Linked DNA regions of Homo sapiens. The protein of the gene in region 3 interacts with the protein of the main gene of each other region in a biochemical or structural test. Each region holds a gene or a part of one and is shown on either strand. Other genes may lie near its edges.

Region 1 (8,748 bases), on a different chromosome or scaffold from region 3:
ATATAAATAATTGAATAAATAGGAGATAACTGACAAATTTCTCATGCAGAAGAATGTAGATACTCCACCGCAAGGAGGGGAAATATAACTACTCACTTTTTTTTCTTTTGAGATGGAATTTTGCTCATCGCCCAGGCTGGAGTGCAATGGCAGGATCACTGCAATCTCTGCCTCCCAGGTTCAAGCAGTTCTCCTGCCTCAGCCTCCTGAATAGCTGGGATTACAGGCGTGCACCACCATGCCTGGCTAATTTTTGTATTTTTAGCAGAGACGGGGTTTCACCATGTCGGCCAAGCTGGTCTCGAACTCCTGACCTCAGGTGATCCACCCACTCAGCCTCCCAAAGTGCTGGGATTACAGGCGTGAGCCACCGTGCCCACCAACTACTCCCTTTTTAGGCATGGGCTGCACATAGTGACTTCCCACTAAACAGTAAAATAGGGGGAGGGGAAAGAATAACTTTACAGGGAGAAACCCATCAAATACTACCTCAGCCGGGTGATCAAGGTTAACATCAACAGTGATGAGCAATGTTGACAGCATGTGCCCCGGATATGATGTGATGACGGTTTTTGTATTTTCCCGTTCTAAAATTTCCATGGGGCTATTCTTTGTATTTTCTATTACTTCTCTGAGACTTTTAAACTTTCCATTTGAATAGCAGCTTTATAGTCTTGATAATTCCAACATGTGTGGCAACTTACATTCTGCATCTGTTACATTTTTTCCCAACGTGAGTTGAGATTTTCCTGGTTCTTCACCTGCCAATTAATATCGATTGTATCCTGGACATTTTGAATGTCATTAGGATGCTCTGGGTCTTGGTTAAATTTGGTGGAGGATGTTGATATTTATGTTTTAAAGGGTAATTAACCCATTTGGGTTCAAGTCATAAGTTTTGACCAGCCTTCTGAGGGTTGTGGTTCCAATGTCAGTTCAGTTTTCAAAGCCTTTGTAGTACTCTTCTGATAGGTCCCACATGGGTGGCACCTAAAGTGTAACCCAGGGTCCTTGGGTTTTGGGTACGCACTGTGAAAAAGTTACACACTTGTAACTGTTACATCTTGAATTTTTGTTTTAAAAAGTTCCAGGAAGAAGCTTAGCCCAGGAAAAACAAAGACCAGTTGGACCCAGAGATGCCTGAGTTGGAGATGAACTTTGGCCAACTTTCCTCATCACCATACTTAAAATCCTGTCCAAGGAGGAGCTTATTCACCATTTTCTATACATGTGACATATGTAGCAGCATAACCGACAACTGGGACTGCGCTGCCTTGACTCCACCTCTACATACAATGACTCAGCTAACCAGACTAATAAAAGCCATGTTTGCACCATTGCTCAGGGAGGCATTGCTTTGGGGAATTATTCCCAGTGTCCTCCTTACTTATCGCAAGTAATAAAATCCCCCTGGGAAATCCTCCTTGGTTGTGGTCATTGGACTGTCCCCTGCCAAGCAATTTAACCCATTCATTGTGTGGGTAACAAAAGGCCAGTCTGGGACATGAGATCTGGGTCTACAGTTTAGTTCTCAAAGTCTTTGGCATGCAATTTAGGACCAGATTCATCATACCAAAAAAGGGAGATAGTCTCAACAGAATTCTCAAATTACTTAAATATCAGAGGCAGTGTAGAGAAGGAGTACTTGGTGGTATGGTAGGTTTTCTGACAGGAAACAAAAGATGGAGGTAAAATGGAACCAGTACTTTCTTTCTGAGAATACTGACTGCACCAACCATAACATGAAGCGAAGGCTATATCTCCCTGAAGTAAGAAATGTAATAAAGGAAACTTTCAGAAATAATAGATCATCTGGAGATGTTGGGCAGTGTATTTGGTAAGTTATAACTACCAGGTATCAATACAATAAGCTTAGTTTGAATACAATAAGCTTAGTTTCTTTTTAAAGAATTTATCCTGCTCTGTGTTCTCTGAGCTCCTTGGATTGGTTTGGTGTCTTACAAATTTTGGAAATTCTCAGCCATTATTTCTTGATTTTTTTTTTTTTTTTGAGATAGAGTCTTGCTCTGTCGCCCAGGCTGGAGTGCAGTGGTGTGATCTCAGCTCACTGCAAGCTCCGCCTCCCGGGTTCACGCAATTCTCTTACCTCAGCCTCCCGAGTAGCTGGGACGACAGGTGCCTGCTACCATGCCCGGCTAATTTTTTTGAATTTTTAGTAGAGACGGGGTTTCACTGCGTTAGCTAGGATGGTCTCGATCTCCTGACCTCGTGATCTGCCTGCCTCGGCCTCCCCAAGTGCTGGGATTACAGGGGTGAGCCACTGCGCCTATTTCTTGATTTGATGTTGATATTTTCCCACCAGTCTTGGATGCTGTGTTCTGTTTCTGTCACTCTTTTTGTGTGTGTGTGTGTGTGTGTTTCAGCAATTTCTATTTACCTACCTTCAAGTCTGATTTTTTCCTCAACTGTGTTCAGTCTCCTAATGGGCCCATGGAGGGCATTCTTCATCTCTATTATTATATTTTTTATTTTTATAGTTTCCATTTTATTTTTCCTGATAGTTTCCATCTATTTGCTAAAATCACCCATCTGAGCTTGCATTTTGTTCACCTTTCCCCTTAGGGCCTTCATCACATTAATCACAGTTATTTAAAATTCTCTCATATTTCTAATGTCTATGTCTTATGAATCTGGTTCTAATGATTGTTTTATCTCTTTGGACTGTGTTTTTTCTTGCCTTTCTGTATGCGTCTTTTTTTCTTTCTGTTAAAAGTTAGTCATGTTGTATTTTTTTTGCTTAAATTATTTTTTCAATTCTCTCTTCACAGTATGAAGTAAAGATTGTTTTTATGCTTGGAGATGAGTGTGTCTTTCCTTCTGCTAGGCCTTTAGTGCTCTTGAGTGCATAGCAGTGGTTCGGTGGTATCAGTCTAGTCAGAAATTGGGCTAGGTTTACAGTTTGTTGTTGTGGTTATCCTCAGTGCACAACAGACTTCAAATTTCTCTAGAGATAGCTTATGTGTAGGGTGTGGACTTTATTTTGAAAGTGTGTTTTAAAGAGGTCTGTATGGATGTCAACTCGATGCAGAGTGGACAGTGGTAATTTTGTAATATATCAACTTTGCTAAGCTAAACTATGTTTCCCAGAATTTCCTTTCCTTTTGTTTCTGGTTAGAATAGCCCAACAGAGACATGGTTGTGTAAGTCTTGAAGGGGAGAACTGAAGCATCCCTCCAGTTTTATACTTGAAACGGTGGTGCAGGGACACTAGGTGCTACTGCGGCTCATCTACTTTGTCACCAATCAGCTGGTTCACCTTGTTGGGATGGGGCAGAAGCTTTTCCCTGAGTCTTCCTTCACCTTTTTTGATTCCTGAGCTGTGTGTGTGTCTAGTCCTGTGGCAAAAAGTGTCAGCTCCTCTAGCAAGGATACTCATATCTTTAAAGTTGGAGACAGTGAAAGAATGACCAGCTCGTGTCTTAGGTTCCAACTCATTTTTGCTCTTCCCTACTTTATGTTCATCTTCCCTTCTTAACTGCTTGCCCTGCGAACATAAAGAAACATAGTGATTCCACTTCTCTGAATGAACCTTGGCTGGTATACAGACTTATAGACATTTTGTGATGGAGAAAAATTGTTAATTAGGGAGCCTCACTTAGTAAAGAAGGAAGGTCATCTCTGGTATGGCAGGAATAAAGACATAAGGATTTTAAGGGATTTACCTGAAAAGATTTAAATGACTACTGTAAGGGGAATAAATACTTTGCAGGAATGCTGAAACTTCTCATTCAATACTTAGGTAAACATATAGACACACAGATGCCATAAACACTCATGGTAAACATCAGTAACTGTTAAGAGCATTCCTTCCTGCTTGGTCCCTATTAAAGAACCAGATCCCTTCTCCATAGAGTATTCCAATTTGCAAAGAAAATCCATTCATTAGTTGTCCAATTTAAATGTTTTAGAAATATTCAGTGGAACTTTCATCAATAACCCCCAAACAGATACCTCAAGAACCCCTTTTTCTAATCATTTAATCATACTACTTACTGAGAAAAATTATTATAGGAAAGGCAGTATTTGATATTGGGACATAAAAAGAATGAAAAATCTGTTAAATAAGCAAAAGCCCATTAGCCTGAGGCTGTCTTGGTACTTGAGTTCCCATATAACAAAATACAACCTGACTTAGTATGTAAACGAACTGAAGCCTAACTTACTTTATTTTTTATAACAGCTGGGTTTCAGCCAATCACGGCCGAGCTTCAGCAAATAACAGACAGCCAACTGATCAGACCATGCCCCAATAAGGCAAATGCCTCATCATATCATTGTCAAATAAGGCAGACACCTAGATGTTAGCTAATGAGGTGATTTCTCTACTTTGCTTCCTATAAAAGCTAGCAGGTCATACTGCTGGACAGAGCTCTCTGAACCTCTTTTGGTTCTGAGTGCTGCCCAATTCATGAACTGTTCTTTGTGCAAATAGCTTCTATTAAATTTGTCAGTCCAGAGTTTTTTTTGTTTTAAACAAATATTCACAAGAAAAGGAAGAAAGTGGGAAGAATAAAAAGCAAAGCACCTCAGAAACACAAGATCGAAAATCCACTTAAGGGATATAGATAATTCCCTGAAACAGGTGAGCATATTATTTGTTGAAAGCCTCCATGGATGTTCTTTGGGATAGCAAAATGGTTGCTACTTTTCAAATTGGATACCAAAAAGGCAATGTATCTGCATCTCAGAATCCAAATCATCCCCACGTTAGCCAAACTCCAGGCCTACCAACACAGATCCTTCAAGTCTTCCTGGCCTTCCAGGCCCCTAGGCTGCAGCTCGCCCAGAACTCCTGGGACTCTAAAACTTAAATCGGTCTAACCAGCAGGCGAACACAGACCTGAACCCTCAAACTTGGAAAGAAAGATCATAGGCACCTCCCCGGTTGGCTCCCCCAGGGACCACAACGTCCGGCTCTAACGCCTTGCCCAAGTCCTCTGTAGCTTTCCACAGGCATTTCTGGGTCTCTATAGCTGTTTGGAGGAGCCACTCACCGGTCCCGTCCTGCCCCGCGCCTAGGCCTGAACCAACCCCCTCGCGGTTCCGGCGCGGATACCCAGCAGCTTCCGGTCTTGCGCGCTCAGGCCGGGCAACGTCCGTGCGTTCTTTTTGGGTCCTGAACCCCGGAAGAGAAACTGCGTTGTACCCTTTTACGTGAGGCGGTGACGGCGGTTCGGAAGTCGTCTGGCCTCCCCGCGGCCGCTCGCAGCTTGCTGGCCTCTCCCGCGCCTCACGTCGGACTCCGTCTCCGCGGCAGGGAAGCAGCATGGAAGCTGAGGACATCCAGGAGGAGTTGACCTGCCCCATCTGCCTGGACTATTTCCAGGACCCGGTGTCCATCGAGTGCGGCCACAACTTCTGCCGCGGCTGCCTGCACCGCAACTGGGCGCCGGGCGGCGGCCCGTTCCCCTGCCCCGAATGTCGGCACCCATCGGCGCCCGCCGCGCTGCGACCCAACTGGGCCCTGGCCAGGCTGACTGAGAAGACGCAGCGCCGGCGCCTGGGCCCCGTGCCCCCGGGCCTGTGCGGCCGCCACTGGGAGCCGCTGCGGCTCTTCTGCGAGGACGACCAGCGGCCAGTGTGCCTGGTGTGCAGGGAGTCCCAGGAGCACCAGACTCACGCCATGGCACCCATCGACGAGGCCTTCGAGAGCTACCGGGTGAGCTGGCCGTCGCGGTGACTATGACGGGGCTGTCAGTGTTGCCCGATAAAGTTTACTTAATGCTCCTAAAAGAGCCACGAAGTGGCTGTCATTCCTACTGGAAGCATGAAAAGCCCCTGAAACTCAAAGAAGTTAAGCAAAACACGAATTTCAGAGCTAGGGTTAAAACTGGAATGAGAGGAGGGGAGGTGCAAACCTCAGCAATCATTGTGCAGAATTTTCAATAAACTGGCCCTTGGGGAGCTCATAATAAAGAAAAACATACTGAGAGGGTGTGTGCCGCTGCTGTCCAATAGAAACCACATATGTAATTTAAAATCTTTCTGGTAAGATAAGGAAACGAGGTGACGTTAATTGTAATAATATATTTTATTTAATCTGATTACCCCAAATATTCAAAGCTGAGATGAAAATTATCAATGAGATTTTTTTTTTTTTTCTGAGATGGAGTCTCACTTTATTGCCCAGGCTGGAGCACAGTGGCGTGATCTTGGCTCACTGCAACCTCCTCCTCCGGGGTTCAAGCAGTTCTCCTGCCTCAGCCTCCCGAGTAGCTGGGATTACAGGCACACGCCACCACACCCGGTTAATTTTTGTTTTTTAGTATAGAGGGGTTTCACCATCTTGGCCAGGCTGGTCTCGAACTGCTGACCTCAAGTGATCTGCCCCGCTTGGCCTCCCATAGTGCTGGGATTAAGGTGTGAGTCACCACGCCCGGCCTCAATGAGATATTTTATACTCCTTTTTCATAATAGGTCTGAAATTGGTGTGTATTTTACATTTACAACACATAGCAGTTTGGAATATCCACGTTTCAGGTGCTTGTATGGCTAAATGGATACTGTATTGGACAGTGCCTGTCTGTATCTGTAAATGTCATAGACAGCTGATGATTTGGGAAAAGCCTAGCTTGTAATGATGAGGCTGGGTTTTGTTACTAGCTTCCTTCATCAGTTGGGAAAATCCTGTAACATTTGAATTTGGGGATTATCTGTCCTATCTCATGGGTTAAGAAGCTCCGGTTGAATAAATCACTTTACCTTACTCTGCTTCAGCCATACTGGCTTTCTTGCTTTTGTTTCAAGTCTGTTCTCTTTCTCTACCCACATCTATCCTTTAGATCCTTTTAGCTTTTAGCTTGAAGACCTTCCCTGATCATCCTTTCCAGAGTAGCCCCACCCCCTCCCATTACTGATGGTGTAACTCCAGTGGTCTCCAGCAGAATTGATATGCAGTAAGTACATGAACACATGAATTTATTTATTTATTTTATTATTATTGTTTTTGAGATGGAGTTTCGCTCTTGTTGCCCAGGCTGGAATGCAGTGGTGAGATCTCAACTCACTGCAACCTCCACCTCCCGGGTTCAAGTGATTCTCCTGCCTCAGCTTACCGAGTAGCTGGGATTACAGGCACCTGCCAGCATGCCCAGCTAATTTTGTATTTTTAGTGAAGACAGGGTTTCACTATGTTGGTCAGGCTGGTCTCGAACTCCTGACCTCAGGTGATCCACCCACCTTGGCCTCCCAAAGTGCTGGGATTACAGGCGTGAGCAAGCTTTCCTGGCCAAACACATGAATTTAATGACACAGTGAAAATGTTTGGAAACTGTAAAATACTGTACAGTTGTACCAGCTGACTATGAACAGGAAACAGACACAAAGCTGGACTAGAAAGTGTATGTTCATTCCTTCACTCAGTAACGTTTATTGATGCTTACTATTTGCCAAACATTGTTTTAGAATCTGGACATAAGTGGATGAGAAAGACATGGGCTTTGTCTTGTAAGGAACTTAAGCGTGTACAACATTAATTTCAGTGTGTGTGAGAGTAGCTGAAGTATTTACCAAGTGTACAGAAGGTCTGAGGTCGGAGTGATCACTGAGGAGTGAGGAAAGGCTCCGTTGAGGAGTTAAATGTGTTAGCTCTTCAAGGGTGAGTAGAGGTAGGAAAGAAGGTATTTCAGGCCAAAGGAACAGCATATTCCAAATGTGGTGGAGTGGGATAGCATGTGGTGTGTGAGAGGACTGGAGGTTGCTCAGTACTTCTGGAGCATGGAGCATGGGAAGGAGGATGGTGGGCCATGAGCTTGAAGAAAAAGGCAGGGCCTTATCATGAAGGATCTTGTTTGCCATAGTAAAAAGATTGAACTTTCTCTTTCAGGCAGTGGGGAGTTATAAAAGGGTTTTAAGGCAGGGAATGATATGATCGTTTTTTTTGTTTTAGACAGGTAACTTTGACATCCACGTGGATGAATGGAAGAGAAGACTAATTAGGCTGCTCTTGTACCATTTTAAGCAGGAGGTAATAAAGACCTGAATTAGTTCAGGGCAGGGATGATGGAGAGGGAGGGATGGAGTGATAATGAGCTGGAGTTGAATGACTTGGTGATCAATTAGACTTGGTGGGTGAGAGAGAGAGGAGTCTTGGATGGTAGTTCAGATTTCTGCTTCAGATGGCAGGTAGATGACTGTCAGGTTAACTGAGGTAAGGTACACAGGAGGAAGCGTAGTCTTAGGACAGAAGATCCCATGCTTGTGGAATGTACTGAGTGTGAAGTAATTGTGACAGGAAGTCCAAGGAAGAGGGACAGGAGGTGGGGTGCCTTGGAGGCTAGAGATAATATTTTAGAATCCTCAGCCTGTTCTTGAAGTCATGGAAGAAGTAAGAAGATGAGATTCTCCTAGGAGGACCACATAGAGAGTAAAAAAAGGCACAAAGAGAAGCTTGGGAAACACCAATGGTTGGTAGCCAGCAAAAGACATGGAGAGGACCCATCAGATAAATGGAAGGGAAAATACACTTGTGGGTGGGGGCCGAGGGAAATATAAGTGGATGGGTATGAAAGGGGAACATAGCCCTTAAATCTTCCATCTTCAGCAGTAATAGCTATCAGTTGTTCATTACTTCTTACGTACCACCCACAGTTCTAAGCATTTTTCATACTGTAATTCTTTAATCTTCATAGACATCCTATTAGGTGGATTCTGTTATTCCCTTTTTGAAGATGAGGCAACTGTGCCACAGAGATGTGAGGTTACATGCCCCCGAGGTCACAGAACTAG
Region 2 (4,660 bases), on a different chromosome or scaffold from region 3:
TAAAGGTTTCACCAAATTTCGAAGGTGTGCGAGGTAGATAGTGGTCTCTTAGCTGTTGTAAGAAGGAACTGGCCAGGCGCGGTGGCTCATGCCTGCAATCCCAGCACTTTGGGAGGCCGAGGCAGGCGGATCATGAGGTCAGGACATCGAGATCATCCTGGCTAACACGGTGAAAACCCATCTCTACTAAAAATACAAAAAAATTAGCCAGGCATGGTGGTGGGCACCTGTAGTCCCAGCTACTTGGGAGGCTGAGGCAGGAGAATGGCGTGAACCCGGGAGGCGGAGCTTGCAGTGAGCCGAGATCGCGCCACTGCACTCCAGCCTGGGCGACAGAGCAAGACTCTATCTCAAAAAAAAAAAAAAAAAAAAAAAAAGAAGGAACTTTCTTGTATGCTACCTTTTCACATGGCCACATGGCCATAGCCTGACAATCAGACTCAAGTCATATTCCCCATAAACCACCCTATCACCTTGAGTACCTCTTACCACAGATTAAAGGGATCTGTTTTACTTGCATATTTAATTTTTTAGTTGGCTTCTAGATGCATCAACTTTTTCCACTGGCAACTTTAGTATTTATTTAGAGACCAAAGGTTGAAATCAACATACTAATCTTCAACTAAATAAAACAGTATCACCTGCACATCACTGGTACTACTCAGGATCTAGCAGAGACTACAGAAATCATTTAGATTTCCTGCTATATTTGCCACAGAGGAATCTGAGGCCTAGAGAATCTACTGTAGGGGTGGCTAAATAGTGACATCTTTAAAAATAAATTTAGTAGTCATTGAAAATATTATATTTAAGATACCTAATTTTTGCAGAATCATTTCCTACATTGTGGCTATTCTATCAAACCAAATAAGAAAAAAAAAATTCTTATGAAGGTAAAATATTGAATAAATCAGTTATTAATATCCATTTCTCAAAATACATTGAAGTGTCCACAAGGTGTCAGGTATAGTGCAGAGTTGTGCATGGGGTCTTTAATCACTGGAATTATTGTGTGAACATCCACTTACCTGTTTTTTTTCCTCCCAAATATATCAATCAAACCACGAAACACCACACACAAAACAAAGCTACTTCTCCAACTGATCCACACTTGGCAGTATTTATTGAGGATTTCAATACACCAGGCATCATTATCATGTTATACATATTTACAGAAAGTGTATGGAAATGGAGTAAGAAAAAATTTCACTGTTACTAAACAGACCTATTAGGGTCATTTTGTAAATAATAATAATTATAATAAGACTCTCGTAAGTTTCCCTGTCCTTGAATGCTGTAAAGAAACAAAACAAAAACATGAGACAGAGACCACTGACTTAACAAATGGATGACTTTATTAAGAGAGAAGGACAAGACTGATGTTTACCTTGGTCAAACCATCCAGGAAAACAAAGCACACAGACTTATAGAATACTTTGGTTTAAAAATTATTCATAATATCAATATTAAACCTGATGTTTAAAGAACCTAATGAGAAATATAGTGTAAAAAACAAACCATGAAAACACAAGTTTGCATAGATGAATTAATGTAGATGTACAATTGGCATTTAAAAAAGGAGGTTTGCGTTTTGGGAGTGCCTTAACGATGTTGAACACCTCAACCTCCCAAGACACATGAAAGTCACCAGCACCACAATTCTCATTTTCCTCAATGAGGTCATGAGCAGGAACAACTTGTGCTGTACGGAGGTGAACTGAAAGAGACTGCTTCCATTGGCCTAGTCCAGATGAGTGTATATATTCCCATCAGAACCCACCACTGGTCATCTTTAAGGCATCCACAAAATGTCCCTCACAAATTCACTTAATCTCTAGATAGGCATGTGGTCTGAGGCAGCCTCTTTGTTTTCTGTCCTCACACAGGCAACTGCATTCCATCAAGGTTCTGTTCAATTCCACGAACTAGCTATTTCAAAGCTGCCTATTCTTCTGGGGCTTGGTTATAAATCCATGTGGATTTGGAATAACAATCCATTTGTTTTATAAATATATCCACATTCCAAATATCAAAGGGGCACTTCCTAAGGAATCTGAAAGTGCCCAGGCAATGCGTAGTCTCTCTCTCAAGAGATCACGTTTCTAAATTATGAGACAAATGATAGCATCACCTCAGGTTTCCTGGGCAACTTGATTTATATGAGCAAACTCTTGTACTTTTTAATTCAGCACCTTTTCAAAATATGTGCTGGGATGGATTCTTCTTAGGGAAAGCCCCATATAGAATTCTCATTTTGGAGCATCATTTTTATATGCTATCTCCCCAGTGTATCTTCTCAATATTTATAACACTTTATGAAATAAATATTGGGTTGCCTGTAAGAAGAGAAAAATATAGCTCTTTCTGAGAAAGAGCATTTGGCTTGCAGTTTACAGCAAGAGCTGAAATTAGAGACCATAGGGATTTCCAAGACCAATTTGACCAGAAATACAAAAATTCTGATGTCAAAAACCCTCTCACAAAATTTAACAGGTAGAAATTATTTTAGCAGTATAGCCTGAAATCCAGTGCAACAAAAATGTATCCCAATTCTATGATATGTCATAGTATGTTCTCTTAGCTGTCTTCCCTTACTTGTTCTTACTCCTTACTTGATCTTTTGGGAAGAAAATGTCGCCCAAACCCATCTTTCAATTTTTCTATTCTTTATATGAACCTCAGCAATGAATAACAGGGCATTAAGTTACACAATTAATTATGCCCTTATCTGAAATGCTGAAACCTGCACAGTGCTGGTTCTCTATGCTATGAAGTTAACTCAAAAAGAGAAAAAACATTTTCTTCTAGTTTGCTGAGAATGTACAAATGCATCTTAAATCTATTAAAATGTTACTAGGCAGTGTTCACATATTTATATATATAAGGGAAAGAGAATGGTTTTTAGGGCCATATATTTCTACAACTCAACATGATTACACGATTGTGTTAGCCTGTGGCATCAAACAGAATCACCACTCTGGTGTCTTTCTTATCAAAGCAAAAGTTTTCCTGCTTTTCTCTTATAAGTAATAAAACAGAAACACTCTTCACATTAGCAAACCTCCCATTTCAAGTAAATGTCTCTGTTTTGTTCGGTTTTCTCCTTTTTTTTCCCTGTTAATGGTTAAGCATTTCAATACACAAGGGTGTTGGTGAAATTCTTACAAATAATCTGAATGTCTTCACTGCATAACAGAACCTTTGGAAATATCTTCTATGTAGTCACCATAGAAGACAGTCAACTCTCAGTTACTCAAGAAGTGGTACCTGGTATGAAGGATTTGGCCAAGAAATTCTCTCCTTCTACCAGTCTTTTTGGTCATGCCACTGCTTATTCAGAGGTGGACAGACAACATGAAATAAAATTATGTATTTATTGTGTTACAGATCAGCCACAAGTCAGTGGCAGAAAAGGTCCAAAGCTTCTGATGACAAGGATACTTGGGGATCATCTGTGAATGTTATATCTCAATGGAAAGCTGACTGTCAGTCACATAAAGGAAGTAACGTACACTGACATCAGTCAGAGTCAAACTAATTTAAGGCAGTACTGCTCCTCACAAACAGTGCTGGCATAAAGTGCAGGTCTCATTGTAAAAGTGACTCTGTAGTAGTAAGATTTTCTCAGTTTACTCTTTCTTTCTTGACTTCTCTACAATTAAATTTCAGCATTTCTAATGACAGTTGTTAAATACCAGGAGCAACAATATCCTGACTCTTTAATATTCTTACCTCTCGCCATGGATAAAAGAGATTCTTCCACCAATAATTTGAAAGACATTGTGCCCCATGCAGCATTAACAGGACAGTCTCCAGTTTGCTTCTACCTGCCCATATTACTTATCATGGGCTAAAAAGAAAAAAAGTATTCTATCAACAGTAAGATAAGCAGATATGGCTTTAAGACTCACAGGCACCACCAGAAATGAGAAAATTGGACCATTTTATATAGTCACTTCTCTATGAGCAGTAAGTAATAGACAAAGTAATTTAAAAATCTTTTTTCCTTTTTGCTGAAGCATGAGGTTTTGATTTTGTTATGATCGTTTCAACAGAATATGGCACTCTATGTACAATGAAGTCTACCTTAGCACTCCTTACACAAATACCGTCTTCTCAAAAGGGAAAAAGCCTTTGGCTGCAAGTTCTATTCTATTATCAGTCCTTCAGAAAGCTGTTTACACAGAGATCTCACTCCTTTATTAGGGTGAAGATTTTACAGCCAATCATCATAGTTATCTTTCAAGAAAATAATCACTGAATAATGAATCATCTTGGTATTCCCCAAAGCGATGCTTATACAAAGGCAAGACATAAAAAATCTAGGACTTAAAATGTTAACCACTTGTGGAGTAAACTGAATGCACCATATTATAGTGGGTATTTCCAATTTGGCACAACACAAATTTTAGACAAGTTTTGACAGAAACTATTAAAGAAAATTAATAATCAGTTAAAAGCTAATTATTTTTATACTGAAAAGTTCTAACTTTGAGAGAAAGTGATGAGCAACAGTCAGCAAAGAATTTACTCATCATCTAGCTCAGCTTCAGGACACATTAGAGAAGAAAAGCGGGGTTAATGAATCAGGTCCAGAATTTTCTAGAGTGAGTTCAGTAAACACAAAGCCCAAGGTCACACATTTTGGAATATGTTGACC
Region 3 (7,894 bases):
TGGAGAAATGAACTCTTTGAATTTTCTTTTAAGACTTTTCCCTCATTATCATTGATGAATGTCATCACACCAACAAAGAAGCAGTGTATAATAACATCATGAGGCATTATTTGATGCAGAAGTTGAAAAACAATAGACTCAAGAAAGAAAACAAACCAGTGATTCCCCTTCCTCAGATACTGGGACTAACAGCTTCACCTGGTGTTGGAGGGGCCACGAAGCAAGCCAAAGCTGAAGAACACATTTTAAAAGTAAGTCATAATTTTATGTATAACCAATGAAAGCAAAGCTAAAACAAATGCCAGGACTTCTTGGTCTTATTAAATAAGATTGAGTTCAAGTGCTGTGATCATCAGTTAAGTGAAATCTGTTTGCTTTAGTACAATAAATATACTCAGTCTTCTACAGAATACTAATATGCCTTAATAAATATCAATAACACAAAATCATATCATAAAAATGATGGAGAGTGATATAATTAATGGGAAGTTGAGATAAATAGAATGCCTTCTTTTGAACATCTACTCTTATGGTTAAATTTAATGATCTACCTGATATAGAAATATGCATAAACTATGAAAGTTTCTAGTTGTCACACATAATAAAGTCTTACTCCATGAGTTTCAAAACTGCGTATTTTCTGTCCTTCATATGTTATTCTAGGAATCTAGGTAATTCAAATTAAAGGGAAATAGGGATATGAAGATCTTTAAAGATGAGCTTGTCAGCTGCCCCCTAATGGTAACACCACATACAGTGCTACTGTTAATCTTGAGTGTTAAGTAAATCAGAGTAGCCCAAGAAGTATTTTGGTACCAAGGCAATTGCATTTGAATTTTAAGTCCCTTACTTTAAGTTGAATTCAATACAAATTATGTAGAGTAGACACAACATTCAGAGATGCAATTATAGGCTCCAAAATATAATTTATTACTGGGATTAAGGACTAATTCCAATCTAATAATCAAGGAACATGACTAAGGATGCTCCCAGCTTTATGTGTAGATGCCTGCTTTATGTGTAGAAGAAGGTGGTAGTATGATCCACGGATGTCAAGTTGACCTTTGATATGCCTCATGTAACATGGTTATCTCAAAATCATTCTCTGTCAATGATGGTAAATTGTTATACTCTTTCCATGTCAGTTTTCCACTTGGAAAATGGAATTTAAGGAATGAATATCAATACACCTTTTTCTCTGTTATTACACCAACTTGATTTAGAAGCTCCTTTTTCCTATATTAGGACAAATGTTGCTGATTGTGGGTTAATGAGATCCATAATAAAACAATGTTAAAATGCTATATTTAGCAAGCAATGCTACATATTACTTTCATGAAATTTTATACCACATATTTATGCTACAATTTAATGCTACATATTTTTTACATGAAAAAGAGTTCTACGTTGAATAAAGTGAAAGGGAAAAATAATTGCATAAATATTGAAAAATGTCTCTTTTCCAGCTATGTGCCAATCTTGATGCATTTACTATTAAAACTGTTAAAGAAAACCTTGATCAACTGAAAAACCAAATACAGGAGCCATGCAAGAAGTTTGCCATTGCAGATGCAACCAGAGAAGTATGGGCTTAATGTTTTATATCTATTGATTGACAATACTACATTCAGTAGAAAGATGGCAAAGGCTATTTTATACTGACCATCTGAAAAATATTATTTAAAAATTTTAGCAAACAAGTTTCAGGTTTTTTTTTAATTGATGTTAGGCAGTAAAGCACTACAGTGAATTCTCGCCTCTAGACCTCTTTTAGTTTTCTAATTTACATGAGGAATAGCTTATTCATTGTTTGTACATATGAGTTAAAAGGGACAGTGAGGGGCCATGGGCAGAGGGATGTGTAACTAAGCTGGAGGGGTTATGACAGTTCGTTTTAGCCTTTTTAATTTTCTTCGTGAATTCCAGGATTGATTTTCTGACATTCCACAGAGCCATTTTGTTGCTATCAAATTACATTTGGCAATGATAATGGGAATCCTATCTAATTTGCATACTTGCATATTTACTTTCTTAGGAAAACAGTGCAATGGTAAAGAAGTGAAATATTTACTTTAATGATGCTTTTCTGATGAATTTTTCAGGAATTATAAGAATAAACTGAGAGTCAATTTGGACATTATGGCCAGTAAATTATGTCAATACTTTATTTTGTAAAATTTAGAAAGCATTACAAATTCTGGCCATATGTACTTGATAATACCATTGAAAATAAGAATGTTGGGATCAAATGATATGAAATATGCATAGTAGATAAAACAATGCTTGAAATATAGTAGGCACTAAACCAATGTTAGTAACTAGCCTCCGTATATCTCTTTTTTTAAATTCTGAAAAAGACTGCTATCTACTCCAGCTGCACTAGCACAGTTGAATATATTTTATTCACTTTCCTTTTTTTGTTACTTATTTGGTTTTACTTGATAATTTTAAATGCATGTTTCTACTCATAAAGATTTTTAAAACTAAATTTCTCAGGTACATTTTTTAAAAGAATTTGCCATTTTTTAAACTTACTTTAATTTTTTTATATACCTTGAAGCATAACATACATACAGAAAAGTACAAATTCATATGTGTACTGATTGCTGAATTTTCCTAAACTGAATACACATATGTAAACAAAATCCAAATCAAGAGACAGCACACTGCCAGTATCCTAAAAGCTCCTGGCTCCCCCTTCCAGTCACCATGCCCCAGGAATCACTACTATCTTGACTTCTAAAACAAAAAATGAGTTTTCACTGATTCTGAACTTTATATAAATGGAATCATATAGCATGCACTCCTTTATTTCTGGCTTTATTCAGACTCTACTTCAACTTTTTATTTTGGTCGAAATAATACTGAAACCAGTTTTACAAAGGAGGAATGTTTCTTAAATTACACTGTAAGCTTTCTAAATAATTGTGGCATTAATGCAATATGTGTTTTCTAAGTTACCTTTAACATACAAGGTTTATATAATTCATTAACTTTACTTTTGTTAACCTTTTAAGTTGGAGATTCCAGCAGAGGTAACAGGGTGTTGGTGTGGGTGTGGCTTGATGGCAGGCTTAAAAGAGAAGCTGACAAAAATAAATGTACAGACAAGTGATGGGACACTAACCTGTTACTTTGTCTAAACAAAGATGAATCAGATTTATTATAACCTAGAAATTATTCTAACAAAGATAATGTTATTCCTTTAACAATAAGAATACATAAGAATAAGTGTGTACTTTATTTTTAGGATCCATTTAAAGAGAAACTTCTAGAAATAATGACAAGGATTCAAACTTATTGTCAAATGAGTCCAATGTCAGATTTTGGAACTCAACCCTATGAACAATGGGCCATTCAAATGGAAAAAAAAGGTAATTTAGGTTTGGACCTAACACTTAGTTTATCCCATGTTTATACCAAGATTTTAGATGACTATATCACAGATTCCCCAAAAAATGGAAAGCAAAAGTAGTTCCAAATAGAATTTCTGTGTTCTCTGTAGGACAAGCATAATAAACATGTTCTAATTCCTTTTCTAAGGAGAGAGATTCCAATGCTATCCAATTTTCTCTTTGTCTCCAGAGTCTTGAGATAAACTTTAATAGCTCTGTCTCCAAAGGCAAACTCAACTAATATATTTTCATGCCATTTCTCTGTGCATCAGCTACATGTTTTTGCTGAGGCAGAACTCAAGCAGCAAGTCTAGGAGTTGGAAAACTTGCCCTGTTTCAGAGCTCAGGACACATTTTGAGCCTTAACTTGCCCATTTTAAAACCAAGGTGAAGCCAGTTTTGCAGTTAGTAACATATATTCAAGTCCATGGCACAATTTTAGGGGGTTTATATGCTTATTATTTCACTTACATAATATATTTTTTCACAGCTGCAAAAGAAGGAAATCGCAAAGAACGTGTTTGTGCAGAACATTTGAGGAAGTACAATGAGGCCCTACAAATTAATGACACAATTCGAATGATAGATGCGTATACTCATCTTGAAACTTTCTATAATGAAGAGAAAGATAAGAAGTTTGCAGTCATAGAAGATGATAGTGATGAGGGTGGTGATGATGAGTATTGTGATGGTGATGAAGATGAGGATGATTTAAAGAAACCTTTGAAACTGGATGAAACAGATAGATTTCTCATGACTTTATTTTTTGGTAAGATTCAAAGTAACATATACTGGTGTCATTCATTTACCTTTTCAACATGAACTTACTGCTTCTCATAAGCTCTCCAAAAAGAGAAATATCTTTTGAAAGAAGAAATCCCACTCAGATTGGAACTATTTCTAATGATATGACCAGATTAGCTACCAGTTGTATGATCACAGTCAGTCATTTGGTCATTCAGTTTTATTGTCAAGACAATTGTAATGAATTTATTTATTAAACCATCCTAATTATTAGATATAGCGCAAGATTGTAGATGAGCCACAATTCATGAAACCTTCTAGTGTAATTCGTTGTATGTTTTACTAATTTATACTTCCAAATAGTTTTTAAATTAATTAATTTTTAATCAATAAAACTGTATATTTTTGGTGTACAAAATGTTTGATATATCTGTACATTGTGGAGTGGCTAAATCAAGCTTGTTAACATATCAACTCTAATTATTTCTTAAAGAAAACAATAAAATGTTGAAAAGGCTGGCTGAAAACCCAGAATATGAAAATGAAAAGCTGACCAAATTAAGAAATACCATAATGGAGCAATATACTAGGACTGAGGAATCAGCACGAGGAATAATCTTTACAAAAACACGACAGAGTGCATATGCGCTTTCCCAGTGGATTACTGAAAATGAAAAATTTGCTGAAGTAGGAGTCAAAGCCCACCATCTGATTGGAGCTGGACACAGCAGTGAGTTCAAACCCATGACACAGGTATAAATATCCTTTTGGACGACTTCTTTTCTTTTCTTTCTCTTTTCTTCTTCTCTTCTCTTCTTCTCTTCTTCTTTTCTTTCAGACGAGGCCTCGCTCTGTCACTCAGGCTGAAGAGCAGTGGCATGATCAAGATTCACTGCACCCTTGACCTCCTAGGCTCAAGCAATCCTCCAGCCCCAGCCTCCTGAGCAGCTGGGACTCTAGGTGTGCACCACCACACCCAACTAATTTTTTTATCTTTTTTGTAGAAAAGGTGTCCCACTATGTTGTCCTGGCTTGTCTTAAACTCCTGGGCTCAAGCCATCCTTCTGCCTCTGCCTTCCAAAGTATTGAGATTATAGGCACGAGCCACTGCGCTCAGCCTGGACTTCTTTTCTTATGCTGTTATTACTCTTCTCAAATTGTTTTTAGTCTTTTTCTACCAATCCTCTCACCACCCATGAATACATTTACAGGATAAAACACCTGTTCTTGAAATAAAATCTAAGGCTAATAGCAATCAAATCTGTGGTTTTTGAGAGGTTAAGTGTTGTTTTAGGAGTCATTTTTCCCACATAATAATTGGAAGAACTTTCTAAGTTTCCCTTGCAAAAATAAGTGACATGTAAGCTTAACAACAAAGTTCAGAAATGATTGCCATGTAGTATCAAGTGGAAAATTCAAACTCCCACAAAAATGTGTTCGTTATAACTAGAACTATGCAAAATATATTTACATAGAATGAGACCTCTAGGGAAACTTGAAAAAACTAAAGAATTTGATATATTAGAGATTTGGGATTCTGGTAAGTAGGTTTTCTGTTCCATTTTAAGGTGTTTTGTTTTACTTTGTTTACATGTTGCTTACTGTGGGCATAGTAAAAAAACACTTGGGTAAGAAAAAAAGGCACTAGTAGACATTACAAGCATGCATGAAGCAATGATGCCTTGTTAGAGTAAAATATTCTTCTGAGGGCTAAAATCACATTGACCCTGAGTCTTTCTGGACAAATGGATACTTCCTTTCTATTATAGTTATCACTATTCAAGCCAATGGAGCAAATTAATTCTGTTTCAGTGTTTGCTGGAAAAAAATTCTTGAAATGGTTCACTATAACTCTTTATATACCCTCTACATGCACTCCTGTGAGCATTGCCAATAAAATTAATGCCAGAGAAAGTACTGTTTTCCTTGGGTAACAAGTTTGCTTCCTTCTTTTTGATGAGATGTAGTTTGCTTTATATGTTTTTCTTTTTGCCTTAGCTTCCAGAAAGCTAGCAGGAAAAACTCAAGTTCAGTCTCACAGCCTCTGTGTTGATTCTTATGAGTTCTGTTTTTAAATTTCTATTATATTAACTTTAGCGTTGTGACTTTTATTGTAAGAGGGCTAAGCTTCTCTGTAAAAAGAGGTAGAGTGCAAATGAAAAGCCTATGTTCAAGCTACTTTCTGCTCCTTATTCATTTCAAACCAAGGGGCTGTGTGCCAAAATACAGAACATATTCCCTTCCTTCCCCACTCCTTGTATCCTCACCTTGTAAACTGGGGTGGACAAACTCCTTAGCAATGGTGTTAGGCATCTATGTGATGTGACTTGAAGATCTGACACTGTCTGGAATTTTTGTTATTAAAGTTACTCCTTCAAATTAAGACACAGGCATCTTCTGCTAAAATCCAAGAACATGTAAGTTTTTATCGGGAGATGTGAGGGCCGGAGGGAGAAATTTTCAGAGAAGACTCAAGAGAGGCCTTTCTACAGGGTTCTCCGACAGTTAGGAGTAGGAGTCAAATAAGGACTCACACTGCCTCTGAGAAGAAAGGGAAGGGGATGGAAGAACATACTTTTGGTCTGGCAGCTTTATTTTTGTTTAATGTATGGGGGCAATAGACAGTGTGGATGTGCACCAAATGCCAACTGGACCAACAGCTTTGATGAGAGTGGTTATGAAAATAAAACCACATTGTCCATATCAAGCTAGGTTTGTGCTCACTCATTTCTCCCATGTAAGGATGAGAGGTCATATTTTAATTTATTTATATTGACTTTCAAAATTCAGAGTTTTTTCATTTGAAAATAGTTTTATTTACAGTTGCATAACCTCTTCTTTCATTTTTATTTATATTGTCCCTTTGAATTGATAATATATTTACCTCATTCAAAATTAATGAGGCACAAGGCATACCACTGACCTCTAGTCTTCCAGCTCCCCTCCCTAGATGCAGCTGATGTTTTCAGTTTCTCTTGTGTCCTTTTGGGAATATTCCATAGCTTCTAACTCAAATGATTCTTAAAGTGACCAAATGCATATACAGTGTGCATTTTCTCTGTGACTGAAAACAATATATCAAAGCATCTCTGCATCTTATCCTCTAAATAGCAAAGATTCTGAAGTTAATGTAGTGGGGGAAAAAAGCCCATTTTAGCTTCTGATTGTCATATCCTCTTCTCAACCGACAGCTCCTCCTTTCTTCCTCTGGAGTCACCCATCAATTTATTTCCTTGGCATAAAATGTGGTCTTCCCACCTCCAGACTGGATGATGGAAATATTTTTGTTATTGTGTGGTAATCCCAGATTGGAAATCAAATGTTGTCTCACCATTATGTCTTTGTTCAATGCCAAAAACAGATGGCAACAAATCCATGTATGATCTAATCCTTTGATTTACACTGACCAGTTGCAATTTATTATTTCTTCCTCTAATTAGAAGATTTTAATGTGTTTAGCATCACAAAATTTAATTTATTAAAATGTTTCTACAGAATGAACAAAAAGAAGTCATTAGTAAATTTCGCACTGGAAAAATAAATCTGCTTATCGCTACCACAGTGGCAGAAGAAGGTCTGGATATTAAAGAATGTAACATTGTTATCCGTTATGGTCTCGTCACCAATGAAATAGCCATGGTCCAGGTACATTCAAATACCTCTACTTACTATGTTAATTTTTATTTGTTGTGTTCCTATTTTAATTGCTTTCTTTTAGTTAAACAGCAAAAACATCTTTTTAGTTTTTAAAACAA
Region 4 (8,553 bases), on a different chromosome or scaffold from region 3:
GGGATTACAGGCATGTGCCACCATACCTGGCTAATTTTTGTATTTTTAGTAGAGATAAGGTTTCACCATGTTGGCCAGGCTGGACTTGAACGCCTGACCTCAAATGATTCACCTGCCTTAGCCTCCCAAAGTGCTAGGATTACAGGCGTGAGCCATTGGCCAGGCTGGTCTTGAACTCCTGACCTCAAATGATTCACCTGCCTTGGCCTCCCAAAGTGCTAGGATTACAGGCACAATCTCTGGTGAACAATTTGTAATATGTCATTGCTCAGAAAGTTAAAAAATATTTTTGTAGATTGTAGTGTCTGGATTTTACATTTCAGTTTGAAATATGAAATGTTACATTTACTTATTTTTTTAAAAAATATATGTATTTATTTATTTATTTGAGACAGGGTCTCACTCTGTTGCGCAGGCTTGGAGTGCAGTGGTGTGATCACAGCTCACAGCAGCCTCGACCTCCTGGGCTCAAGTGATCCTCCTGCCTCAGCCTCCTGGGTAGCTGGGACTACAGGTATGTGCTGCTATGTCTTGTTAATGTATTTCTTATTGTTTGTAGAGACAGGGTCTCACTATCACAGGTGCTCAGGCTAATCTTGAATGCCTGGGCTTAGGCCATGCGATTTTCCCAAAGTGCTAGGATTACAGGCGTGAGCCACTGTGCCTGGCCTACCTTTATTTTTGTAGTATAAAATAAGCAATTTTTTCTTAGACTTGTTTGAGGGCTCCTTTTTTTTACCTACCCTTTAAATACTGATGTTCTTTTGGGTTCTCTTTTTTTAACCCTTTCTTTTCCTTCCCCTTTCCCTTTCTTAGATAAATAACACTGACTGAGTTCCTAATGTGTATCAGGCCAGGACCATGGTGTACAGCTGAGCAGGTTGTGCAGTACACAATTCCAGGAGCTGCCAGTCACTGCCTCCACCCCAACCACCACCCTGGCCCATCAAGATTTGTATCGTGCAGGCATCTCCGTGTATCAGGCACTTTGGTAGCTACTTAAAAAAACCACTTTTACCCTCACAACAGCCTATGAGATGAATGTCATCATTCTTATTTTATAGATGAGAAAACTGAGTTTCGGGTATATTAAATAACTTCATTAAGGTTACATAATAATGAGTGGGTAGTGGAGTTTGCCAAGGTCCAAATCCTCTGCTTCCCTCTATAGCATGTGGGTTGTCTTAGCTTTTGGTAATCTCATCTATGGCCACCACCTAAATGATGGCAATTCCCAAATGACTCTCCACCCTAGATCTCTCTCTGTTGATAGCCTACTGGTCAGTTTTTCCAGTATGCCCCAGAGGCACTTCTGATTCTATAGATCTTAATTTGAATTATCATGGTTTCCTTACCATCACTTCTCTTTTATTCCCCCTCTTAGTGGTGCCAGCAGTTGGGGCTATTCTTTTTCTCTTATCCCCCTGCATCTGATATAGTTTTGATGTGTGTCCCTGCCCAAATCTCATATTGAAATGTAATCCTCATTGTTGGAGGTGGGGCCTGGTAGGAGGTGATTGCATCGTGGGGGCAAATTTCTCACGAATGGTTTAGCACCATCTCCCTAGGTACTGTCCTGGGGATAGTGAGTTCTTGTGAGAGCTGGTCGTTTAAAGGTGTGTAGCACCGCCTCCCTCCCCCCTCCCCCCGAAACGCTCTCTTGCACCTACTTTGACCATGTGACAGGCCTCTCCAGAGGGCCAAACAGATGCCAGCATCATGCTTAAAGCCTATAAAGCCTGCAGTACTGTGAGCCAATTAAATCTCTTTTCTTTATAAGTTACCCAGTTTCAGGTATTTCTTTATAGCAATGTGAGAATGGACTAATATAACATCCAATCAGATACCAAGTTCCATCACTTCTGTTTCTGAAATCTCTCTCCATTGGTTCCCTTCCTTTGCATGGCAGTTGTCACTGCATTAGCTCAGACCCTCATTCATTTATTCTGGATGTATCAGCTCTGTCTGAATTATGAAAAATTTCACCTAGAGTCTCATGTCTAACCCTTTGTTTTAGCTGTTTGCTCAGCCTGGTTTACCCTTCTCTACCACACCTATTGGGCTACTTGAAGACATAGATTTAAATCACTGATATGGTTTGGATCTGTGTCCCCAGCCAAATCTCGTGGTCGAATTGTAATCCCCGATGTTGGAGGTGGGGCCTGGTGGGAGGTAATTGGACCATAGGGACAGAGTTCTCATAAATGGTTTAGCACTATCTCCTGGTGCTGTTTTTTGTGACAATAAGTTCTTGAGAGACCTAGTTGTTTAAACATGTGTGGCATTTCCCTGCCCCACCCCGCCTTGCTTCTGTTCCAGTCACGTAAGACATGCGTGCCTGCTTCCCCTTCACCTTCTACCATGATTGTAACCTCCCTGAGGGCTCCCCAGCCATGCTTCCTGTGCAGCTGCAGAACCATGAGCCAATTGAACTTCTTTTCTTTATAAATTACCCAGTTTCAGTTATTTCTTTATAGCAATGTGAGAACAGATTAATATAATCACCTTCTCAGAGAAGACTTGATTCTTTTCATCAACTCCTTTCCTTTAAATTCTTCTTCTCTGTGCTCCCAATAGCACATCATGCTTAAGTCTATCATATCACACATTATGTATCACTCACACATTGGGTACAACTATCAGTACCCTGATAATTGATTTGCTTGTCTTACTCCTTCCCTGGATTGAGAGGTCTTTGAGGACAGGGAGACCATGTCTAATATCATTATCTTAATACAACCTAGCAGATTGTCTGGGAGGAAATCAATAAATGCTCCAGAGAATGAATATCCATTCACACTGTAGACTCCTTAGGAAGATCTGAGAGAGTTTGTTCACATAATATTATAGCATTCAACGTGTTTATTTAGTCTTATTAAATTTTGACTGCAATTTAAAAAAAATTTGCATAGTTGCATGGTTGAAAATAATCAGTGGTGATGTTACTCAGTTGTGCAAAATATTTGGGATAATAGGCAGCACTATTCGTGCTTATGTTCTCATTCATATTGGCAGCAGCTTCTTCCCTTATCCTGTTAACAAGAGATTATAATTTATGAATGGTAATTTGAAAAGTGGACTCTGTGTTGAACTTTGGTTTAAGGCTCAGGAGATTTGCATCAACACCAATGAATAAACTAACCTCTTAGAGGTTGCTTTTTATCTTTCCTAGTTCCTGTCCACCAAAATGGTCACTATACCAAGAAAATTCCTTGAAATAGATTATCTCAGAACCTAAGCCATTGCTAAATCTGAAGGTTGGACTTCCTTTGGGATGGTTTTCATTTACATTCACCTTCCTCATGTAACTCAGATTTAGGTCTCATTCTAGCTTGGCCTGTGTCTGGTTTGGGCCAATCTCTTAAATCTTCCTGGACATCAGTTTCCTTATTTTTTTTTTTTTTTTGAGACAGAGTTTCGCTCTTGTTACCCAGGCTGGAGTGCAATGGCGCAATCTCGGCTCACTGCAGCCTCTGCCTCCCAGGTTCAAGCGATTCACCTGCCTCAGCCTCTCGAGTAGCTGAGATTATAGGCACCCACCACCACGCCCAGCTAATTTTTTGTATTTTTAGTAGAGACGGGGTTTCACCATGTTGGCCAGGCTGGTCTTGAACTCCTGACCCCAGATGATCTGCCCGCCTTGGCCTCTCAAAGTGTTGGGATTACAGATGTGAGCCACCGCACCCAGCCCAGTTTCCTTATTTTTAAAATCAGGTTATTTGCTAAAATAGCTAGGAAGACTTTTCAAGCTCAAATATCCTACCGTGGGTTCTTTTATCATCTTATTGCCCCTGTCCTTTTTCTCTTCCTCCCTGACTGGTGAGCTGGTCCTCCTACCTGCCCTAGCATGGCACATGTAGATACACTGTGTTATTCAGCACTTTGCTTTGACCTAGAGGTTTTCTTCAACTTGGAGGGCTGAGAAGCAATGTTTGCTTGTGTCGTTTGGAATGGTGCCTGTTGGCGTGCACAGATCCTTTCCACAAAGGGCCTGTGAGTCCCTTCCTTTTAGGAAGCACATTCCTGACAGTGGTTGCAAAAGTAGAGAGGGATTGCAGAGTGAACACAGATTCTTGTGTCAGAGCGACATTCCTAAATGGCAATGTTCAGCAGACTTAGGTGATTGTGATCTATGGGGGATATGGGGAATGAGTAGGTATGCGATTCATTATGAATGTCACACAAATGAAGTGTCCAAGGGTTTGGAGCAAGGAAGCACTTCATAATACCTCACAGCTTCTGGATTATTTTGTTACATTTTTGTTTAATTGAGGGTACAACCAGTTAAGTTACAAAGCACTTCAAGTGAAATCATTGTTTCATCAAGAAGTGTCTGTATTTTATGAGGTAAACTAAGATTATTCCCGATTTGATTCACAGGTATTCTAATTTCATCATTAGATGCAAAAGGACAAGTGAGGTACAAGCTGTTTTTTGATGAGATGTGCATGGGAAGTGTTTCTATAAAACAGTTGTCTGCCACGTGGGAAGGCAGGTCTGGGCTGTTAGAAGTAGAAGAAAGAGATTTAAAGAGCTGGGAAGGAGGGAGAAAATAAAGAAAGGTGGCCTGTGAGGATATGTACAGACAGAGAGGTAGCAGGCGCTTAAGGCCAAGAGGTGAGCTGTCCCTGTCTGGGCAGAAGAAGTGCGCTAGGGGCAGCTGCCTGCACCCCCTGCTCTGAATTCCTGCAACAGCGGTCCCAGGAGAACAAGAGACAGGTCCTGACAAGCAGTAGAGTCGGTGCAGCGCGCCCGGGTTCGGATAGGGTTAAGGCCAACACCTGCAGCTGAAGTACGACCCACATGGGAAGTAGGAAGTGCGGCGCCTGAGCTTCCTGTATAAATAAACGCGCTGCTACCGCTGCTGGCGAGCTGTGCCCCACGCTCCCGCTGCAACAGTCCCGGGCATCGCAGCTGCCAGTCAAGGCTAGGAGGCGGTCGGGGACTCCGCCTCCTCCCGACCCGTAGGTCTGGGAGCGCAAGTCCTGTTGCAGTCTTGCAAAGTGTAAAGCTGTCAGCCGCAGAGCACGGAGGAAAGACGGAGAGAATGGAAGAGCTCCTGTCCGGTGTGCCAGCAGCCCGGACTGGCGGTGAGCGCGAGGGAGGCTACTGAGAAGCCCGGCGACGGAGGAACGCAGGTCTGCTGCCAGGTAGGTTTAGCGAGCTTTTTAAAGGCTACAGGCGTTGCAAGACCGGAATGGTGTTGCTGGACTAAGGAAAAAGGACAGGAAACTCACTGTGACACCACAATTTTTCGATTTTCTGTCTCTAGTGCTCAAACCATACAGAACTGAATTCATTCTGAATGCCTTAAACACCTGTTAACTTAGAAGAAAAATGCCTTTGTTAAAGGAAAGTAGTTTCATTTCTAATAAAACAGTTTCTATAATAGAATGTATTGTAGAATCCGAGATTAGACCAGACCTCTCCCTAGGTCTTAAGGGGAGACCAAAAGTTGGCATAATCTCGGATTATGCATTATAGTGCTTATTTTATCAGGTAATTGCTAATGAAACAGTGAAACTCTGATACTACGAGAGCCATTCTCAAATTTAAGTTAAAATCGAACTGATTGTCGTTTGTGCAGGGAAAAGGTAGGTATCTTTTGCTTATTCTTTCTAAAACACCTTTTGTTTTTCTCATGAGTTTCAAGGATCCTGCTGTAAGTCTACTCCTCATGCATATACACTATTCACATAAAGATTTCCCAGAAATTAATTCCCTTCTCTGGGAAATGTTCTTTTTTCATGTTCTCATAACAGACTGTCAGTTTCATATTGCTTTCTGCCACATGTATCTTATCAAAACATTAGCTCTGAGGTTCTTAACAGGACTATCTCTGCTCTTCCGATTTGGCATTTCTGGACGTTTATTTGAACATTGAGAGGTATAAATTAAATGGCAATGTATCTAACATTTCTGAGGAAGCAGATTAGGGGGTGTCTGTGCCCAGAAGCAAAATAAATGAACTTTGGGATGACTCAGTTTTTAGGGTGTGGGTAAGAGGCAAAAGGAACCTAGCCAGTCCTAACTGAGTTGCTGGCTAATTAGAGTATCTGTCTGCCGCAGCTTTCACTGAAATGAGCCTCTTGGTCCCTTTCACATCAAATCCCTCTGTGAGTCCCTCCTTCTCCTTAGTTTATCTTTCCTTCACAACCTGGGTCCTTTTCATGGACAGCAGTGCCTTAAATACTTCTAAAACTATCCTGAGGGGGAGAAAAACCTATAGCAGATCCACAAAGCCACTTGTAGATAATTGTATTATGAAATCCAAGGTCATGGTTTCACACAACTCCTGCTCTGCCCTTGCACACCTTTGACTGGCATTTTTTTTTTTATTTTTGTCGTGGGCATAAACTTAGAAAAGTGGGAAAGGGAAAAACCTCAGTTTCAAAAGTAGTCTCTGACTAATTAATTATCTTGATTAAAAAAAGGTAAACATATATAGTGAACGTGAAAAAGATGTTGAGTAGTAGAATTGGGTTGCTTGGCTTTTTATTTAAAACAAACAAAACTCAACCAAAAAAACCCCCCAAAACCCCAAACAATCACCCTAGATAACTTTCTCCTACACTACTGTGCTGGAAGTCGGGCTTGAGTGTGGTCAAATCCTGCCCATTTACCCAGAGTTTTACAAATATTTACAGTCATCTATGCCAAATATCTTTGTGCTGAGTCCCAAAGAACATTCTCAGCATTCAAAAGGCCCATTCTCATGAATGGTTTCAGTTCATTGGCAATTTAAAGGCATTCAGGCTTCCAAACTAGGTCAGCTTAAGACATGTCTTTTTAAAATAATCAGTTTTTGGGTCTCAGATTATGAACCAGGTTTTTGGAGCCAAACTCTACAGCAGAGAGAAGAGTATGCTCTCTCTGGAAAGAAAAAGCTTATTTTATCTACCTGGTATGACCATTTAACTTCCTGAAAAACGTCTTTCTCCTCAGTAGTATGAATATTTTTCATCTGAGGAGGTGCACTTAAAATTTCCTTCTTGAAAAGTCATTTCAATATTTTAGACGTTTAGAAACATTTATATGTATGTCAGAATCCTTTCTCCGAAGTGTTTCTGCTAATCCTGGCTTCTTTGTTTCCCCTGGCCTTGACTTTATGACATTACTTTCTTGGAGAGTGAAGTTTTTAGTGTTTGAAATCTCCAGTTTGAGATAGAGGTCAGGAATCATGCTGAACCCAGATGTTACTGAAGGAACAAAGTCTGAGCAGTTTTGGGACTAAGCCTACTTTGTACAACTGATTATTTTGGATGTGGGAAAAGGGCCAAGCTGCCAGACAAGTCATGCTTTTCACTTGGACTTTGGGGAATAGGTATCTGTAGCCATTGCTCCTAAGTACTGAAACATTTCTTTCAGGGGTGCCTACCTTAATTTATAGAAGCTCCTTACCTGAAACAAATGGTCAATATTTTCAGCTTGTGAATTTCTGGAAGTGAATACAGATGAGAACCAGGCCTTTAATATTTTCTCTCCTCCAAGTACAATCAGAAAAGTTATCCACTCTACTACTGAGTGACTGATTTGCTAGGTGCTAGGTTAGATGCTGGGATATAAAGATGGCTAAGATGTGGTCTCTGTCCGGAAGAAATTCTCATAAGGTCAGAAGTGACTTGGGTCTAGAGTGGTAGTTCTGAATTCACATTGCTTTGCCAGATTATAAAAAGTACTTCGATGTTTGTCACCTCGATCATCTTAATTTTCTTGGTAGTGTTACCTTGACCATTTGACCATTAAGAGGTATATGACACCTAAGTTAATTTATGTAAATATTTTAATTCATAATTTTTACCTTTAGGTGTATGTGGGAGGTCTTGGACTAAAGTTTTAGTTTTATTAACTTTGGCATTTGCTATTTACCCAGTCGGTGAGTACTTTGGAACCTAATGCATCATACCATAGTTGTTATTAAAAAATGGATAACTATATATTAAATGAGTAAAAATGACCAATGCTTCTGCAACGTGGAATGAGGATCTTCTCATCTATGAGCAGATCTCTTTCTTGAATTCAAAACACAGCAATCTAAGTGAAATAGACTTTTCTTATTCATAGCTGGAGATACTTCTGATCACATGGCTTGGAGTATTTATTAAGAGCATACTTTGAAAGCCATGTCCCATTGTTTTCTAAATCTTTTGAAGTCACGAGTTTGAGTCCCAGCCCTTCATCAACTTGTTCTTTGTTTTTCTTGGGAAGATAAAACAAGACAACTCGTTTCTGTCTGTTGAACTTGTGGCTGAAACCATAAACCCACACATTCTCCTGCATATGATTATATGAAATCCTCTGTTGAAAACCTCCTCAACTAGTTGACTCTTAATAAGTAGGAGCTGGGTTTAATCACCTTTACATCCCTAGCACCTAATGTGTAGAATTTGTTCTTTGTGTGTTGACTTTGTTTCCTTCATGATAAATTCCTGTTATAGGAAATTAATTGGCAAAGACATACAAAAATCTACACCTGCACTTTGCTCAGGTGGGGTGAAGATTCCTCTTCCAAACTGGTTTCCAATTTGTTTCTAATTAAAATTTCTATATGAA

What was found.
Region 1: the proteins of IFIH1 (region 3) and TRIM4 form a complex in vitro, tested with the Homo sapiens proteins (one study listed by BioGRID).
Region 2: the proteins of IFIH1 (region 3) and CCDC50 form a complex in vitro, tested with the Homo sapiens proteins (one study listed by BioGRID).
Region 4: the proteins of IFIH1 (region 3) and RNF144B form a complex in vitro, tested with the Homo sapiens proteins (one study listed by BioGRID).

Annotation. Positions count from the first base shown.
Region 1 is NC_000007.14:99,915,941-99,924,688, reverse strand, and holds the start of TRIM4 (E3 ubiquitin-protein ligase TRIM4), read left to right. Parts: upstream 1-5,158; 5' UTR 5,159-5,287; coding exon 5,288-5,680; intron 5,681-7,909; coding exon of another isoform or gene 7,910-7,987; intron 7,988-8,748. Other genes in the region: GJC3 (gap junction gamma-3 protein precursor), read left to right, coding at 1,086-1,144. UniProt on the Homo sapiens protein: E3 ubiquitin-protein ligase. Mediates 'Lys-63'-linked polyubiquitination of the innate immune receptor RIGI, this linkage doesn't lead to proteasomal degradation but seems to enhance IFN induction.
Region 2 is NC_000003.12:191,395,106-191,399,765, reverse strand, and holds the end of CCDC50 (coiled-coil domain-containing protein 50 long isoform), read right to left. Parts: 3' UTR 1,107-4,660; downstream 1-1,106.
Region 3 is NC_000002.12:162,273,685-162,281,578, reverse strand, and holds part of IFIH1 (interferon-induced helicase C domain-containing protein 1), read left to right. Parts: intron 1-33; coding exon 34-251; intron 252-1,466; coding exon 1,467-1,583; intron 1,584-3,250; coding exon 3,251-3,374; intron 3,375-3,885; coding exon 3,886-4,164; intron 4,165-4,632; coding exon 4,633-4,892; intron 4,893-7,634; coding exon 7,635-7,784; intron 7,785-7,894.
Region 4 is NC_000006.12:18,382,481-18,391,033, forward strand, and holds the start of RNF144B (E3 ubiquitin-protein ligase RNF144B), read left to right. Parts: upstream 1-4,869; 5' UTR 4,870-5,150; intron 5,151-8,553.